2 separate regions of the Homo sapiens genome follow, and region 2 is linked to region 1. The links come from fine-mapping of genetic effects on gene expression. A gene starts in region 1. The other region holds a variant in brackets. All regions are shown on one strand. Distances are from middle to middle.

Region 1 (5,000 bases):
AAAAGTAGCTTGTTCACCTGAGTAATTCACCCAATCTTTAAACACATCATAAAAATTTGCTGTGCTGGGGAGTGTCATAAAGTCCTCGTTAGCTGAAAGGCACTCAGGGGTTCTGACCGTACCCCTGCATCCTCTGCAGAGCTTCCTTGGGTCTTCCTGACTCTGCAGAAGTTACTCAGCGTTCAACAGCTGCATCCATTTGCAGTCTCAAGTTTTGGCTGTACCACTGGGGCCGATACTAGCTTGGGCCAACCTTGCTCAAAGGCTGAGAGGCCAAGTACAGGAGAACCGTGAGGATAAGATGTCTAGTCTCTCTGCTGAGCCACTTTCCTTAATGTCTTGAATGAATTTTCACAGACGTGGCATGTAGCAGTGAAACTGTTGTTACCAGTGGTTAAGTTTACATTTGAGGCACCCCGAGTTAAAATTTTACAAAGGACCTTGCTTCCTCCTACGTGAAAGGAAGAGGTTAGGAATGCCCTCTTCATGGAGAAAAGCCACTGTGAGCACAGACTTTCGTGTAGGCTTTGTGGATGGCTTGGTGGCCTCACTGTCAGGCTGGCACTGATGGCTCAGTTAGCATATCTGTTTTGATAAGTGCTGCAACAGTGCATTATAATTGTGGGCTGTGGTTTTAATTTCAAAGTGTTTCTTAAAAGACACATTATTTTAAAATGACAGAAAATTCAACTCCCTCGGTTACTGGCCCAGCTAAGCGACGTCACTGCATTGCAGTTCAGCGCTGAAGCTTGGGAGAGTCCCACACTCCTTACTGCAAGCGGATGTGGAGAGGCCAGTGGATAATCTCCTGTGAGCCCATGGCCTTCTTTTCATCCCAGGATGTGAATTGTCTTCACTGATTCATAGTTACACCCTGCCTGCCACAACCAACGCTCTCCTAAACAAGATTCCACCCTCTCCACAATCCGGATGAATCATCTCTTTTCCACCCTTCAGAGCTGGTAGTGAATCCTCCTTCTTCTTTTTCTTAAAAGCATCCTCCTCTCCTCATTTTAGGCAAGTTGCATCCCGTTTTCTGATGGACTCCAGAAGCAGGCTCGTAGTGAATGTCTTTCATGACCCACAGTCGCTGCCACGGGGCACCAAGGTCAGGCAGAAACCATCCAGTGCCACCTTGGTCAGAGGCTAACAGGAGAGAGGTGGCCACGAAAGTTACATCAGATTGACATAGGCCTGTGAAACATTTAGCTTCACTGAGCTTGGGAAAGACAACATCATTGGAAAAAACAATATTTTAGCCCAGGTTCAGCACTGACCCATTGATAATCCAGACTGGGAGGCCCTTAGGTGAGCTGGTTGTCCTGCTACAGCACCCACAGCTCAGGCCAGTCCCGTCCCAACAGCAGAACCACCGAGGACAGCAACATTCCGATTTTAACAAAAGCATCTTATGGAATTAGACATTCTTCATTGGCCCTCACTGAGTGGAAAACAGGATACTCCCCGAAGTAAACTCTCTCCTGGTTTACAACAATACACCTGGCCAAGAATATGGGGCTGCAGGAGGAGGGGTTTATCCTTTGCCCTCTTCCACCTGCCAAACCCAGGTCATACACCCTTCTACAGACCTGTCCAGTTACCATCAGCTGAGAAAAATACAGTTCCGAGAAACCCTATATTGTTATTTTATAAAGCTTGAGTTGAAGCTACCTGTTTTAAAGATCCTTTTTCAGGAAGAGGAGTAAATTAAGATTTACTCCCCAATGGGCTAGGGGGTCATGGGTTAAGAGGGGCTCAGAAGCAGGACGAAGTTGTTTTCAATATTCAAGTCAGAGGAGGAGCTGCCCTCCTGGCCTCCCGACCCTGGGCGGTTACATGCAGCTTCCTACCGGGCCCACGCCATCCTGCACCGCCTGGAGGGCTGCCAGAGGCCAGCGGAGGAGTTGGTTCAGTTCCTTAGGGAAGACACTAGGTGAATCACCAGGATCCAGAAAAGGCAAAAGGGACTCTTCACCCCTTAAATTTCTCCACCCTTAGGTGATGGGTGGTCGACCTTGCCTGGCTGTCCCCAGAGGGTTCCTCCACCCTTCTCACCAGTGTCTGAAATTGTGACCGACTGTGCACAGCAGTTTCGAAAGGGACTCTAAGGTCACATGGGGACACGGCCGTACCACGCTTCTCAAGGCAGTCCCAGGTGCATGGCCACGGAACCCAGCTCTCAGCAGCTGTTAGTTAGGTGAGCGCTGTTCGGGCTGCCTTCCTCCTCCAGTGGGGCAGGATCGAGGCACTGATGGAACCGTCCTGAGGACGCGGGTCTCAGCCGCACACCACCTCTTCGCGAACAAGGGTCCTAAAAATTTTCCTTCTAGGCGGGGAGCACAGCCCGGAAACAGACCCTCGTGAAGTGTTTAGGAAAAAGGGAAGCCACTGAAATCTTGGCCCCGGGGTAGGCCGGGATCGGCTGGCTCCGCGTTAGTTCTAGGCAAACTCCGCCCAAATCTCTGCCCGGGGATTTTTCTGCAGAAGCCGCTCCAAGAGGTAAAGGTCAGTTCCTGCAGCGAAGGCTTCCTGCTTCACCGGCGAAACGGAGCTTTGCTTCGAAGCTAAGCTTTCGGTGAATTTAAAACGTTTGGTGGCAGTGGGTCAAGTAGCCAGGCGGCTGCGCTAGAGTACCCCGAAGGGACATCGGCGACACCACAAACCTCGCGCTGGCGGCTCGCCCGCGCCTTTTTCCCCTCCCGCGCGCGCCCGGCCCCACTCGCACCCCGGGCGGTGCCATCGCGTCCACTTCCCCGGCCGCCCCATTCCAGCTCCGGAGCTCGGCCGCAGAAACGCCCGCTCCAGAAGGCGGCCCCCGCCCCCCGGCCCAAGGACGTGTGTTGGTCCAGCCCCCCGGTTCCCCGAGACCCACGCGGCCGGGCAACCGCTCTGGGTCTCGCGGTCCCTCCCCGCGCCAGGTTCCTGGCCGGGCAGTCCGGGGCCGGCGGGCTCACCTGCGTCGGGAGGAAGCGCGGCGGGGCCGGGGCGGGGGTCTCGGCGTTGGGGTCTCTGCGCTGGGGCTCCTGCGCTCCTAGGCGGGTCCTGGGCCGGGCGCCGCCGAGGGGCTCCGAGTCGGGGAGAGGAGCGCGCGGGCGCTGCGGGGCCGCAACACCTGTCTCCCGCCGTGGCGCCTTTTAACCGCACCCCACACCCCGCCTCTTCCCTCGGAGACTGGGAAAGTTACGGAGGGGGCGGCGCCGCGGGCGGAGCGCGCCCGGCCTCTGGGTCCTCAGAGCTTCCCGGGTCCGCGAACCCCCGACCGCCCCCGAAAGCCCCGAACCCCCCAAGTCCCCTTCGAGGTCCCGATCTCCTAGTTCCTTTGAGCCCCCATGAGTTCCCCAAGTGCCCCCAGCGCCCTGAGTCTCCCCCGGTTACCCCGAGCGCCGCCTCCCCCAGCCCCTTGGCGGCCCGGGTGAAGCGGGGGCGGCTGAGAGTCGGGACCCCCCAGGAAGCGGCGCCCCAGACCCCGGCTCCGGCGCTGTGCCGTGGGCGGGGTTCAGGGATGGCTGTGGTCGTTGTCCTCTGTACTCCGCATAGTGCGAGAGGACTTGGCATTTATGAGCGCTTCTTTAATTTTTTATTGTTAGAGAAACAGGCATTCCTCCAAGGACTGAAGATCTGTTCGAGTCGCGGAGGCTGCGCGGGCCCGCGAGGCTCTCGCAGGGGGACCTAGGCTGGGTGGCGGGGCAGTGCCCTCTGGAATGGGGGTTAACGGTGGCCGAGGAGGGGGCGCCGCTGGTGCCGGCGAAGTCCCCGCTTCTTTCTCCCCTCAAAATCTCACCAATCCGAACGAACGCCTTCTCGAATTTCCGATTTTATTCAATTACTTTCAACAATGTGCCAAGGACTAAGGTTGGGGGCGGTGGGAGAGACAAGCCTCGTTTTTGCCATGGCCGGCAGGGGGGTCCCGCCATCTGCGGAGGGTGCCCCCCGCGGCCCCCGGCCCAGCCAACTTCCTCCTCTTTTCGCAACTGGGGAACTGCAAGGAGGTGACTCCTTTCGGGGTGAGGAGGCCCAGACTTTTCAGAAAGGAAAGAGGGCAGGTAAAACCTGCCAAGCCCCTTCCTGCTCGATGCACACAGCACGAAAGGGGGAAACTGATAGGATTCTGCGGAAGACCGCTGGGGGGCTGGCTCTGCACTGCACACCTGCTGGGGGCTTTCTGGATACCGTGAAACTTTGTCTCAGATTATGAGGTCTCAGTATTTGCATTTGGTTGGGGATTTTGATGTCTTGCGATACAAATGACAGAAGACAGATTTGCACAGCGCAAGCGGATGAGGGACTAAGATGTGCAGAGCAGGCTGGGTGGGGACTCCCGGGGAGGTCTCCCCCAACCCCCGCCCCACCTCGGGCACCCACTTCGCGATTTTTGCAGAGGGGAGCCAGGTCAGAGGTGCAGCCTGGTCCCCTCGCGCTCACGTTTTTACCCAGGTCAGTTCGAAGTTAAGTGGAAATGATGATTAATCCTGACAAGTCAGATCTGGCCTCAGAATGGATTTCCCGTGATTGCCACCATTATTAGCATTGACTTTTCCTTGAAAAATTGGCGCCCCGTGGCCATGGGCCGACCTAGGCAGTTTCTGCAGGGACGAGCGTGAGTTTTGTACCGCGGTTACCACCTACTTTCCAGCTCCAGGTCTTAGTCTAAGAGGGAGTGTCTGCTCATGAAGAGGCAAAGCCCCAGGAGCTGCGAAAAGCCTTGCATGGCCCATCTGAGAGATGTGCTGAGTCGGCTTGTTAAAAATGACAGGCAAAGCCTGTGGGGTGGGGCAGCTTTCTTGGCCTGAGCGCATCTTGGTTGAGCCAGAGGTGACTTGGGGTGGGGAGTGGGGCGCCGGTTGGTGGGTTCTCCCTTTAATTTCTCAAAGGCTGTGGTGTTTATGAGTCTGTTGGAATCCTGGTTGGGTTGGAATGAAGGAAGGTTCTAGAACCATTGTGGGAAGCTCGCTAGTAAAGATGGTTTGGAGATCGGAAGTTGACTGACTTTCCCCCATTGA
Region 2 (5,085 bases), 22 kb before region 1:
TCTGCGTACTGGGCCACATCCCTCCTGCCGTCCCCCACTTCCCTGATGACACCTACAGCAAGCCCCTACCCAAGTGTTCTGTGATCCCCTGTAAATGTGGCCTCCCTAGCTACTTGCTTTTATGAAACCAACAATCCTGGGGACACAGTTTTCGGCTGTCTCAAGACGGGGCAACCACTCTTTTCCCCAGGCCTGTGGGTCCCAGGCCTGGAGCTAGGGTTGGCATTCTTGCCTGAATTCTCCACTCTATCCCAACCCCTGAGGCCGCCTGAGGAGGCTCAGACTGTGTCAGGCTAGGAGGACAGTCAAACCACAAAAACATGCCTTTTAAGAAGTATAAGCACAAATCCCTCTTTGATGTTATATAAAAGCTCAGTGTCACTGATTAGGAATCCAGCAGCCCAGGTCCCTGTGTGGACATGACGGTGTTGAGGGAAGCGGATTGACCGCTGGCGGTTGTGTCCACAGCGAGGAGGTGGCTCTCCACTGTTGCTGTGCCAGCCACGTTTCCAGGAGTGTGTTTAGTTTTGGACAGAGTCCAGTGAAAAATCCAATCTATTTAAACAATGGAACATCACCCATTTAAAAGGTGACTGGCCCATTTAAAAGGATACAGAGAGGACTGAAAAACCACAAACTATAAAGAGGGGTTGAAGGGAGTGGGAATATTTCCCTAAGAGAAAGGACTCAGAGAAGACCCCTGTCCATTTAATGAGTACTGGTTACATGCCAGACACTGGGCCAAGACACTTACATATATTAGCTCACTTAATCCTCACAGCAGCCCAGTGAGGGTCATATGAAGAAACGGAGGCTCAGGAAGGTTAATTAACTTGCCGAAGGCCACACAGCTAGAATGGGGCAGGGTCAGGATGTTAATATGAATCTGCGGCCCCAAGCCCTTGCTCTTAACCAGCTGTGTGTGTGTGTGTGTAAACACAGTCATATGTGTATGTATGTGTGTGTATATATTTGTGTGTGTCAAAAAGTTTAGGCTGGCTTTGTATGTCCACCAAAAGGACAACCATGACCTGTGGGCAGAAGTTCCTGGAGAACAGCTTTTGCTTAAACCCATTACATATACCCAACTAGAGTTGTCAAGAAGTGGCTTCAGGATGTGGTGGTTTCCAAAGGTAGTGGGTGGGATGTCTGTGGAGTGTGTCTCTGAGAAGGTGGCCAGGAAATGCATCTATGAGGTGATGGGAAGTAACTTCCTGGAAGGGAAGAAGAGTTCAGATTAAATTAAGGCTGGATGTTAGAAGTGTTAGATAAAACCCTTTGGAGGACCTGGTGGATGCTGGAAATTTGTTAAGCGAGCCATCCATGTAAAGTGCAGCAGGGAAGGGTGCGTCTTGGAGTCAGCTGGTGGGCGACACTGTGAGGCGACTAGCCCTGCGAACTCTTGGGAGGCTGGGACTGAAGAAGACTGAGGAGGAACAGATGTGCCCTGGGCTCCCTTCTCCAGCTCCTTAAAATACCTGTGTCCTACAGGGAGGACAGACGGAGAGATGGTGCCACAGAACCCAGGAACTGAGCCTGGGAGGCTTTGCTGCTTTTGGTGTTGGTTGAACAGGATTTGTTCATGGATTACTTTTTTTTTTTTTTTCCACGCAGGCTGGAGTGCAATGGTGCCAACACAGCTCACTGCAGTCTCAACCTCCGAGGCTCAAGTGATCCTCCTGCCCCAGCCTCTCAAGTAGCTGTGACCACAGGCGTGCACCACCACACCTGGCTAATTGTTAAATTTTTCATAGAAATGGGCATGTTGGCCAGGCTGGTCTTGAATTCTGGCCTCAAGTGATCCTCCTGCCTTGGCCTCCCAAAGTGCTGGGATTACAGGCGTGAGGCACCATGCCTAGCCATGGATTACCTTTTTGATTCCTCCTTTGCTCTTTTCTTTCTTGGCTTCTACTGGCTACATTTTCTTCTCACTTGTCTTTCCTATCCTTTCCTTTTAATTTCACTTTTGCCTAATGCAGTCATAAAGACATTTCTGTCAATGATGAACTGCATATCCAACGGTGGTACCATAAGATTATAATGCCATATTTTTACCATACCTTTGGTATGTTTAGATATGCAAATTCTTACCATTATGTTACAGTTGCCTTCAGTAATCAGTACAGTCACATGCTGTACAGGTTTGTGGCCTCGGAGCGATAGGCTACACCACACAGCTTAGGTGTGCAGTAGGCTATTCCATTGGTTTGTGTGGGTACACCCTATGATGTTCCCACAATAACAAAATTGGCTAATGACACAATTCTCAGAACGTACCTCTGTCATTAATCGAGTGACTGGGTATCATTTCTTCTTTCCCTCCCCTCAGTCCCCATCGCTGATGGCTCTTCTCCATCAGTAACCAGCCCCCACCACCACAGTGTCCTTTTTACTCTTCCTTCCTCCCCACCCTTACCCCTTGTGATGGGAGGAATGAGCAGAGATGGTGCAGGACCAGCCAGTTCCTGCCAGCAGACTCCCTGCCACCAGCAGCCGTTGCTAGATAAGTAGAATACACCTATTTCTTCAGGACAATTGAGAGAAAGTCTGAGTTTCCATCACTGGTCTGCCCTTATTAGCTCTCTGCCCTGGGGTAAGTGGCTTGCCCACACTGCCCCCGTTTCATGAGCTTATGTACATGGAGATTACGTAGGATTGTTACGAAGATGAATCAACATGACCCAGTGTATGAAGTAGCCTAAACCAGTGCTGGTGCATAGTTGGTGCTCAAAAAATGGCACCCGTTATTATTACTTAGAAACTTGTATAGCAGTTTGCCATTGCTGTGACATTTATATTGTAATTTACACAGGTTTTGATCCTCAAGAGATTAGGGAAAAAATCTTTCACTACTAATGTCATTATTTCCCCTTCTTTGCAAAAGCTACTTACTACGAATAGAAACATTTACATAACGAGTGAATTTCTCAAATGGTGCAAGAATCAACCGCAAAATAGGCCTCCTCTTTTGAGTTTGGGAGAGAATAAACAAACAGAA[A/G]TGAAACAACCTGGTTCCTATGAAGCCTCTTCTTGCTTCTTTTTGCCTCCCTGCGGGCCCCTTTGTCAGCACAGGGCAGGTGCTGAAGAACTTGTGCTCATCTGGCCCAAGCGCCTCCTCCATGTTTTCATCCTTGACAAGCCCAGACCAGGAACTCAGTGTCCCCTCACAAGAGGACAAATTTAATTTCCTGCTTATCCAAGATTTGTTTTATTTGATATGTAGGGACAATGTGTTTATAAATGGTTAGCAGCTATTAAGAGTGTAGAAATGTGTCATTTTCTTAACAGATAGGATCACCAACCCTCTTGAAAAAAAGTTGACATCACTTTCTAATATGGCCCCTGTGTAATGTCCCCAAGGCACTGTGTGATGCCACAAAAGCAAAATAAAATATTTGAAGTGTGTAGATTTCAGTTTACAAAGGCCAGGCCTATTGTTTGCCAAGGAAAAGAAAGCAGGAACCACTGGGTTCTCCGACAGTACTTACTTGGCTTTCTTCCTCTAAAAGAATGAGGCATTATTAATCCTTTTATTTCTACCAGAGAGCACAGAGCAGCTGAGTGATAGATGTTATCTAGCTTAAATATGCACTGGGTAAGCATCTGAGTGCAGGTAGCACTGTTCTAGGAATTATGGGGCTCCTGGGAAAGCGTAATGTGTTTAGTAGCTTATAATCCATCAATATGAGTTGATGTTGATAAGTTCATTAATATGATTGATGAACTTATAATTCATCAACCCATCAAATGGCTGACAAGCACATGAACTATGCCAAAGGCGCTGGGGTGTGATGGTGAGCTGAGTTGGGGGTCTATTCTCTCTCAACTTACAATCAACAAGATGAGCATTAAACAGGTAAATGCACAAGAAAACATGTACTGTGTTTCACTGCATCTAAAGTACGGTTGATCATAAGACATATCACCATGTATGTACCACTGAAGTAAAAGCCTGACTGTCATTGTTGGATGTCGCCAATTGTAAAGCACGGCTCTCTATTTCACAGGTGTTAGAATGGGAAAGAATTGTGTGTCTTAGAATCTGTGTGTGTAAGAATTAACTTATAAGTAAATTAATTACTAATCACGGTGAGTTCTTTATAGAAAAGATGTTACAAGAAAGCCCAACAGAGAGCCCTGCTTTAGGATGAGTGACATTTCAGCTGAGGCTTGAAGGGTAAGGACAGGGGAGAAGAGTTGGTGGGATGCTGTCTCCAATGGGTGGTGCAGGAGATAGGTGAACAGCGGCGCAGGGGAGGGAGATCAATATGGTGGGGATAGTCAGGGAAATATTGGAGGTGGGAATTGAGCTGCATTTTGAATGATTTGAGGTGGAAAAGGAAGGCCCAAACAAGGGACATAACACTAGCTAAGGCCAAAAGCAAAAGATAATGGGTGAAAAATCCATTTTATAATTCAAGTGGAATCCCAAGAGACTCCAAATAGCCAAAACAGTCTTGAAAAGGAGGAACAAAATTAAAGACTCACTCTTCCTGATTTCAAAACATACTACAAAGTGATAGTAATCAACACAGTTTAGTACTGGCATAAAGACAGACATATAGACCAATGGAATACAACACAGAGGCCAGAAATAAACACTTACATGTATGGTCATCTTCCACAAGGGTGCCAAGACCATTCAATGAGGAAAGGACAGTTTTTCAGCATATAGTGGGGGAAGCTGGATATCCACATGCAAAACAATCAAGTTGGACCCTAATCTTCCACCATATACAAAAATAAACTCAAAATGAGTAAAAAACCTCAATGTTAGACCCAAAATAATTCAACTTGTGGAAGAAAACAAAGGGCAAAACTTCACAAACTTGGATTTGGCAAATGATTTCCTGGTTATGGCACCAAAGCCACAGGCAATAAAAGAAAAAATAGACAAATGGATTTTATGAAAATCAAAAACTTTTATGCTTCAAAGGACACTAAAGAGAGTGAGAAAGCAATCCACAGAATGGGAGAAAATATTTGCAAATCACATATCTGATAAGGAATTAATATCTGGAATATATAGCGAACTGCTAAAACTGAACAATAACAGTATCAACAGAAAACAAGCTGATTCAAAAG

Which allele goes with the higher level. Positions count from the first base shown, and alleles are read on the strand shown. Sizes are in standard deviations (SD) of each study's normalised expression.
With allele G in place of A in region 2, the expression in monocytes of the gene that starts at base 3,110 in region 1 is higher (large effect, 1.0 SD a copy in BLUEPRINT).

The links. PIP is the estimated chance that this variant, and not a neighbour inherited with it, causes the effect.
Region 2: its variant is fine-mapped to the expression of GJB2 in monocytes (BLUEPRINT, PIP 0.95). The same link has a PIP of 0.9 or more in monocytes after LPS, monocytes after Pam3CSK4 and monocytes after R848.

The regions. Positions count from the first base shown.
Region 1 is chr13:20,189,829-20,194,828 of GRCh38, forward strand. It overlaps GJB2 (gap junction protein beta 2), which reads right to left and starts at 3,110. Exons shown (of 2, transcript NM_004004.6): 1 at 2,955-3,110.
Region 2 is chr13:20,168,151-20,173,235 of GRCh38, forward strand. No RefSeq gene overlaps it. Among named protein-coding and RNA genes, the nearest start is that of GJA3, 9.6 kb to the left of the region's middle. The variant A/G (reference allele first, on the strand shown) is at 2,999.